Regions from separate parts of the Homo sapiens genome. Here region 2 is linked to region 1. A link means that fine-mapping ties the variant in region 1 to the expression of a gene that starts in the linked region. Tissue or cell type: whole blood. Region 1 holds a variant in brackets; the other region holds the start of a gene. All regions are shown on one strand. Distances are between the middles of the regions.

Region 1 (2,626 bases):
GGCAGGAGAATCGCTTGAACCTGGGAGACGGAGTTTGCAGTGAGCTGAGCTCATGCCACTGCACTCCAGCCTGGGTGACAGAGTGAAACTCCATCTCAAAAATAAATAAATAAATAGATATTTGTTAATTGGTTTCCCCAGTGGAGTTGGGAAAGGGGGTTAAGCATTATTCTGATCTTTGTCACTCCCACTAAACTGGGAGCTCTTGAAGGGCCACATTGTGTCTTAATAATCTCAGTACTTCAGGGTCTCGCCTGGTGCCAGATACAGTAGTCCCTACTTCTCCCTTATCCAAGGTTTTGCTTTCCAAGGTTTTAGTTACCTGCAGTCCAGAACTGTTATATACAGTAAGATATTTTGAGAGAGAGAGAGAGCATAGCCACAAACTTTTATTTCAGTACATTGTTATAATTGTTCTATTGTATTATTGTTATTCTTAATCTCTTTTTTTTTTTTTTTTTTTTGAGATGGAGTCTTGCTGTGTCGCCCAGGCTGGAGTGCAGTGGCGCCATCTCTGCTCACTGCAAGCTCCGCCTCCCAGGTTCACGCCATTCTCCTGCCTCAGCCTCCCGAGTAGTGGGGACTACAGGCGCCCACCACCACACCCAGCTAATTTTTTGTATATTTTTTTTTTTTTAGTAGAGACAGGGTTTCACCGTGTTAGTCAGGATGGTCTCGATCTTCTGACCTCATGATCCATCCACCTTGGCCTCCCAAAGTGCTGGGATTACAGGTGTGAGCCACTGCACCCGGCCATCTCTTTTTTTTTTTTGAGACGGAGTTCACTCTTGTTGCCCAGGCTGGAGTGCAATGGCGCGATCTCAGCTCACTGCAATCTCTGCCTCCCAGGTTCAAGCGATTCTCCTGCCTCAGCCTCCCCAGTAGCTGGAATTATAGGCGCCCACCACCACACCCGGCTAATTTTTGTATTTTTAGTAGAGATGGGGTTTCACCATGTTGACCAGGCTGGTCTCGAACTCCTGACCCCAGGAGATCTGTCTGCCTCGGCCTCCCAAAGTGCTGGGATATAGGCGTGAGCCACCATGCCTGGTCTATTATTCTTAATCTCTTACTGTGCCTAATTTATAAATTAAACTTTATCATAGGCATGTATGTATAGAAAAAGACATAGTATGTATAGGGGTCAGTACTATCCACAATTTCAGGCATCCACTGAG[G/A]GTCTTGGAATGAACCCCTGTGGATAAGGGGGACTATTAGATAGAATAAACATCAATAAATGCTTGATGAATAAACGCTAATCCTACCTTCCCAGCCTGACACCTCCCAGTGGACACCACACTTCACTTGAAGCCTTAGAAACCTTTCCCACCCATGCTTCCAGCCCTGGCTTCATGTTGCCATTTCTCACCCCCAGAACAGGCCGCCCGCCTGAAGAAACTACAAGAGCAAGAGAAACAACAGAAAGTGGAGTTTCGTAAAAGGGTGAGAACAACTGGAGTGATCAAAGGCAGACTCAGGAAGGACTTCCAATAAGTTAAAATTGGAAGGTTGAGGACTCAGTTTTGCTGAAAATGTCTTGAGAGAGGTGACGCATGGAAGCCAGTGGCTTGGAGGCTGGGGAGGGTGCTGGGGAGGCGTAGAAGGGCCCAGGCTCAGCTAGGGAGAGGGGTACTTGGGTGGAGCCATTGTCTCATATCTGCTTCCTTTCCCCTCTCCCAAGATGGAGAAGGAGGTGTCAGATTTCATTCAAGACAGTGGGCAGATCAAGAAAAAGTTTCAGCCAATGAACAAGATCGAGAGGAGCATACTGTGAGTGTCCCTGGGCTGGGGGAGGAAGGAAATGGGTGGCTAGCGGGGCATGAAAGGGCCAGCGGGGGGCTCCTCCAGAGGAGGGCACTAGGCCCGCTCCTGGCTCAAGATGCTCTTTCCCCTCTGCCATCCCATCCCAGACATGATGTGGTGGAAGTGGCTGGCCTGACATCCTTCTCCTTTGGGGAAGATGATGACTGTCGCTATGTCATGATCTTCAAAAAGGTAAAGGGCCTGAATTCCTCATTCTCTCCTCTCCCCTTTGTAGCCTTATCCCCCCTCCCCGACCAAGGAATGAAATGAAACATTTGTATGGACTCTGACCCCATCATTCTGCTCTTCTTCAGGAGTTTGCACCCTCAGATGAAGAGCTAGACTCTTACCGTCGTGGAGAGGAATGGGACCCCCAGAAGGCTGAGGAGAAGCGGAAGCTGAAGGTGAGCTATGCTTTGCAGCCCTTGGGGTCCAGAAGCCCACCACCTGGGAGGGGTGGGGGTTTGGGCTGGGGCCCTGAGCACCAGTGCCCCCACTTTCACCCCTAGGAGCTGGCCCAGAGGCAAGAGGAGGAGGCAGCCCAGCAGGGGCCTGTGGTGGTGAGCCCTGCCAGCGACTACAAGGACAAGTACAGCCACCTCATCGGCAAGGGAGCAGCCAAAGACGCAGCCCACATGCTACAGGCCAATAAGACCTACGGCTGTGGTGAGGCCACAGTGCGGCTGGGGGTGGCTGGGAGAGGAGCATAGGATGCGGCAGGAGGGCAGTGGAGGCTGAGGTACGGATTTCTAGGCCCGCCCTACCCTCCTCTCTGCCCCTAGTGCCCGTGGCCAATAAGAGGGACACACGCTCCATTGAAGAG
Region 2 (2,500 bases), 27 kb before region 1:
AGGAAGTATTTCAGAACAGAAAGGTGAAGAATGGAGAGACAGGAAGCCTGGCCTCCAGGCACTTCTCTCCTCAGCCTAAAGTCTCCACAGACTGAAGAAGGCCCAGTGGGGCAGCTCTGGGGCTGCATCTGAGCCAGTGGTGCTTGGCGAAGAGGGCTGTGGATTCCCCAGCACCAATGAATACCCTGATCTGGAAGAGGAGAGAGCAACCTATCCACAGGAAGAGGACCGTTTTCTCACTCCTGGCAGGGCCCAGGTATTGTTGGAGTGGAACTGGGTGGAGTGAGGGAGTGATGTGGGTCTCTGGTCTTGCATGGAGATGCAGAAGCTGAGAGCCAGGCTGGAGAGCTGGATTTGAGAGAAACAAAAATAACGTAGGTGAGAACCAGAGACTTCGAGGTACCTAAGCTTGGGTACTAGGAAATCTGGAAAGAAGACCTACTTTTCCATTTTCTTTTTCAATTTCTCTCATCTTGACAGCTGCTTTGGTCTCCCTGGAGCCCCCTGGATCAGGAGGAGGCTTGTGCCTCCAGGCAGCTGCACTCTCTGGCCTCGTTCAGCACTGTCACAGCCAGAAGGAACCCCCTTCACAATCCCTGGGGGATGGAGTTGGCAGCGTCTGAAGAGTAAGGAGAAACCACCGATGCCGAGAGGCTAGTGGTGCCCCAGGGACCCAAGACTAGTTCCGTCACTAGAGTCACCCTCATTGCTGACATGAAGGCGTTTCCCCTTCCTTCGTCTCTCCAACTGCCTTTCCCATCCTCTGAACTAGGCATTAACAGCCCCCGTGGGCTCCCATCTCAACCCACCGCTCTCACAGGAGCACCCCAAGTCCTGTTTTCCTCCAGGCCCCGCTCCTGGCCTTGTATTCTCTCTGCTCTGTTATTAAAAAGCAAGCAAGTGGAGCCCGAGTTGTCTTTCTTCTTGGGATGCAGCGATGGAGAGGCCAATGGGGAAGGAGGGCTCCTTTCGCTTTCTCGAGGACCCAGCTACAATGAAGTCGGGCTGGGTCCCCAGACAAGGAGTCTTGTCCGAGGCGAGAAGGGTCCTGCTCCCAGTCCAGCGTTCCTCGCCCGGCCCCTCGGGTTCCAGCACTGGTGGGCTGCCCCCGCCCCGTTCTCTCGAACTGGGAGTCAGTCGGCCGAGCTTCCGCCTCCAGGACCCTGGAATCCTGCCCCTCAGTGCTGCTGCCCTTTTGGGGACTTCCCAGCAGTCTGTCCCTCGGCCTGGCTCAGAGCCCTAGAAGCCGAGTCCCTCTGCCCAGCGCCCCACCCAGAACTCCACGTGTGCTGACCCCAGGTTCCCTTCCTGACCCTCATCCCCTTAATTGGGAGGCCCCGCCCCGTGCGCAGTGACGTTAGACGCCGCTGTCAGCCGGCGCTGGGGGGGGTCGGTGTGGGGTAGAATGGCCGCTGCCGCCGTCACCCGCGGGACCCCGGGAGGTAAGAGCCAGGGCCTCTCGCCCGCCTCTCCGCCCCCGCGCCAGAGGGCGCAGCTCCTCCAGGTCCCGACGCGGAGCGCCGCGCCAGGGACCACCGTCCCTCTTCCCGGTTCGCCCTCACCTCCCGCTTCCGTCCTCCTCCCCCGCGCCAGGGGGCGCCGCTCACCGCAGGGCCCCACGGCGGACCAGCGCGTGCCGGGGACTGTCCCGGAGACCCCCGCACCCGGCACCTGCACTGTCCCTCGCCCACCGCGTGCCCGCGGACTCTGCTCCCGGCTTCTCCAGAACATCCCTCTATGCGGGCGGGACCCTCCCACCTCGGAGGTTCTCCTGGGACCACCACTCCGCCGGGGGGCCGCCCAGAGTGCCAAGCGTCCGATCCGGCGCCGCCCAAGTGCAGCCCAAGGACCCGCTCCCGCTCCGCACCCTGGCAGGCTGCCTAGCCAGGACTGCGCACCTGCGCCCTGGGGCGGAGTCCTTACCCCAACCCCAGCTTCACTGCACATAGCCGAGCCCGACGGGCCTCCTCCCATCTCCATCCTGGACACCTGGCGGAGCCCGTGCTGAGAGCCTCCGCCAGCTCCCATCTGTTCCCCGAGGAGGGCGGGGGGCTCAGGCTGGAGCCAGAGCGGTAGATGGGGTAGGCTAGGCCTGGAGGCCAGGGGAGGCAGAGGCGTTTGGGGAGAGGGAGCTACGTAGAGAGGGCTGTCAGCCGGAGGGTGGGTTGTCCTGAGGGTGGGAATCTGGGTGTCTGGCCCAGATTCTATCAGGTCCTAACCAACCTGGAGGAGAGAATAGGTTAGGTTCAGTTATCAGATCTGCCCTTCCCCTTGGAAAAATCAAACAGAGAAGGAACTCAGGGCGTGTCTTCTAAAGGCCTAGCTTCTACCGGAGGTAGAATCTCCTGCCCTGCCCCCAGGATCCAGGCTCTCTTGCCAAACCATCCTCCAAGGACCGGATGGCCTGAGTCCCAACCCCCAGGACCTGACCCAACCATAGCCCCAGTCTGTGCAAAAGCTCAAGGTTTAGGGCCTCTGAGGCCCAAGCCCTGCCAGTCTT

Evidence for each region. PIP is the estimated chance that this variant, and not a neighbour inherited with it, causes the effect.
Region 2: CAMTA2 starts here. The variant in region 1 is fine-mapped to the expression of CAMTA2 in whole blood (TOPMed, PIP above 0.99).

What each region holds. Positions count from the first base shown.
Region 1 is chr17:4,959,603-4,962,228 of GRCh38, reverse strand. It overlaps SPAG7 (sperm associated antigen 7), which reads left to right. Exons shown (of 7, transcript NM_004890.3): 2 at 1,376-1,443; 3 at 1,682-1,770; 4 at 1,911-1,995; 5 at 2,118-2,207; 6 at 2,313-2,469; 7 at 2,586-2,626. Among named protein-coding and RNA genes, the nearest start is that of SPAG7, 6.9 kb to the left of the region's middle. The variant G/A (reference allele first, on the strand shown) is at 1,179.
Region 2 is chr17:4,986,535-4,989,034 of GRCh38, reverse strand. It overlaps CAMTA2 (calmodulin binding transcription activator 2), which reads left to right and starts at 1,360. Exons shown (of 23, transcript NM_015099.4): 1 at 1,360-1,442. It overlaps INCA1 (inhibitor of CDK, cyclin A1 interacting protein 1), which reads left to right. Exons shown (of 7, transcript NM_001394789.1): 6 at 91-256; 7 at 481-905. The coding sequence ends at 630. CAMTA2-AS1 (CAMTA2 antisense RNA 1) reads right to left here and starts at 1,291. Exons shown (of 3, transcript NR_187235.1): 1 at 810-1,291; 2 at 443-619; 3 at 1-348. RefSeq lists a silencer at 1,341-1,880.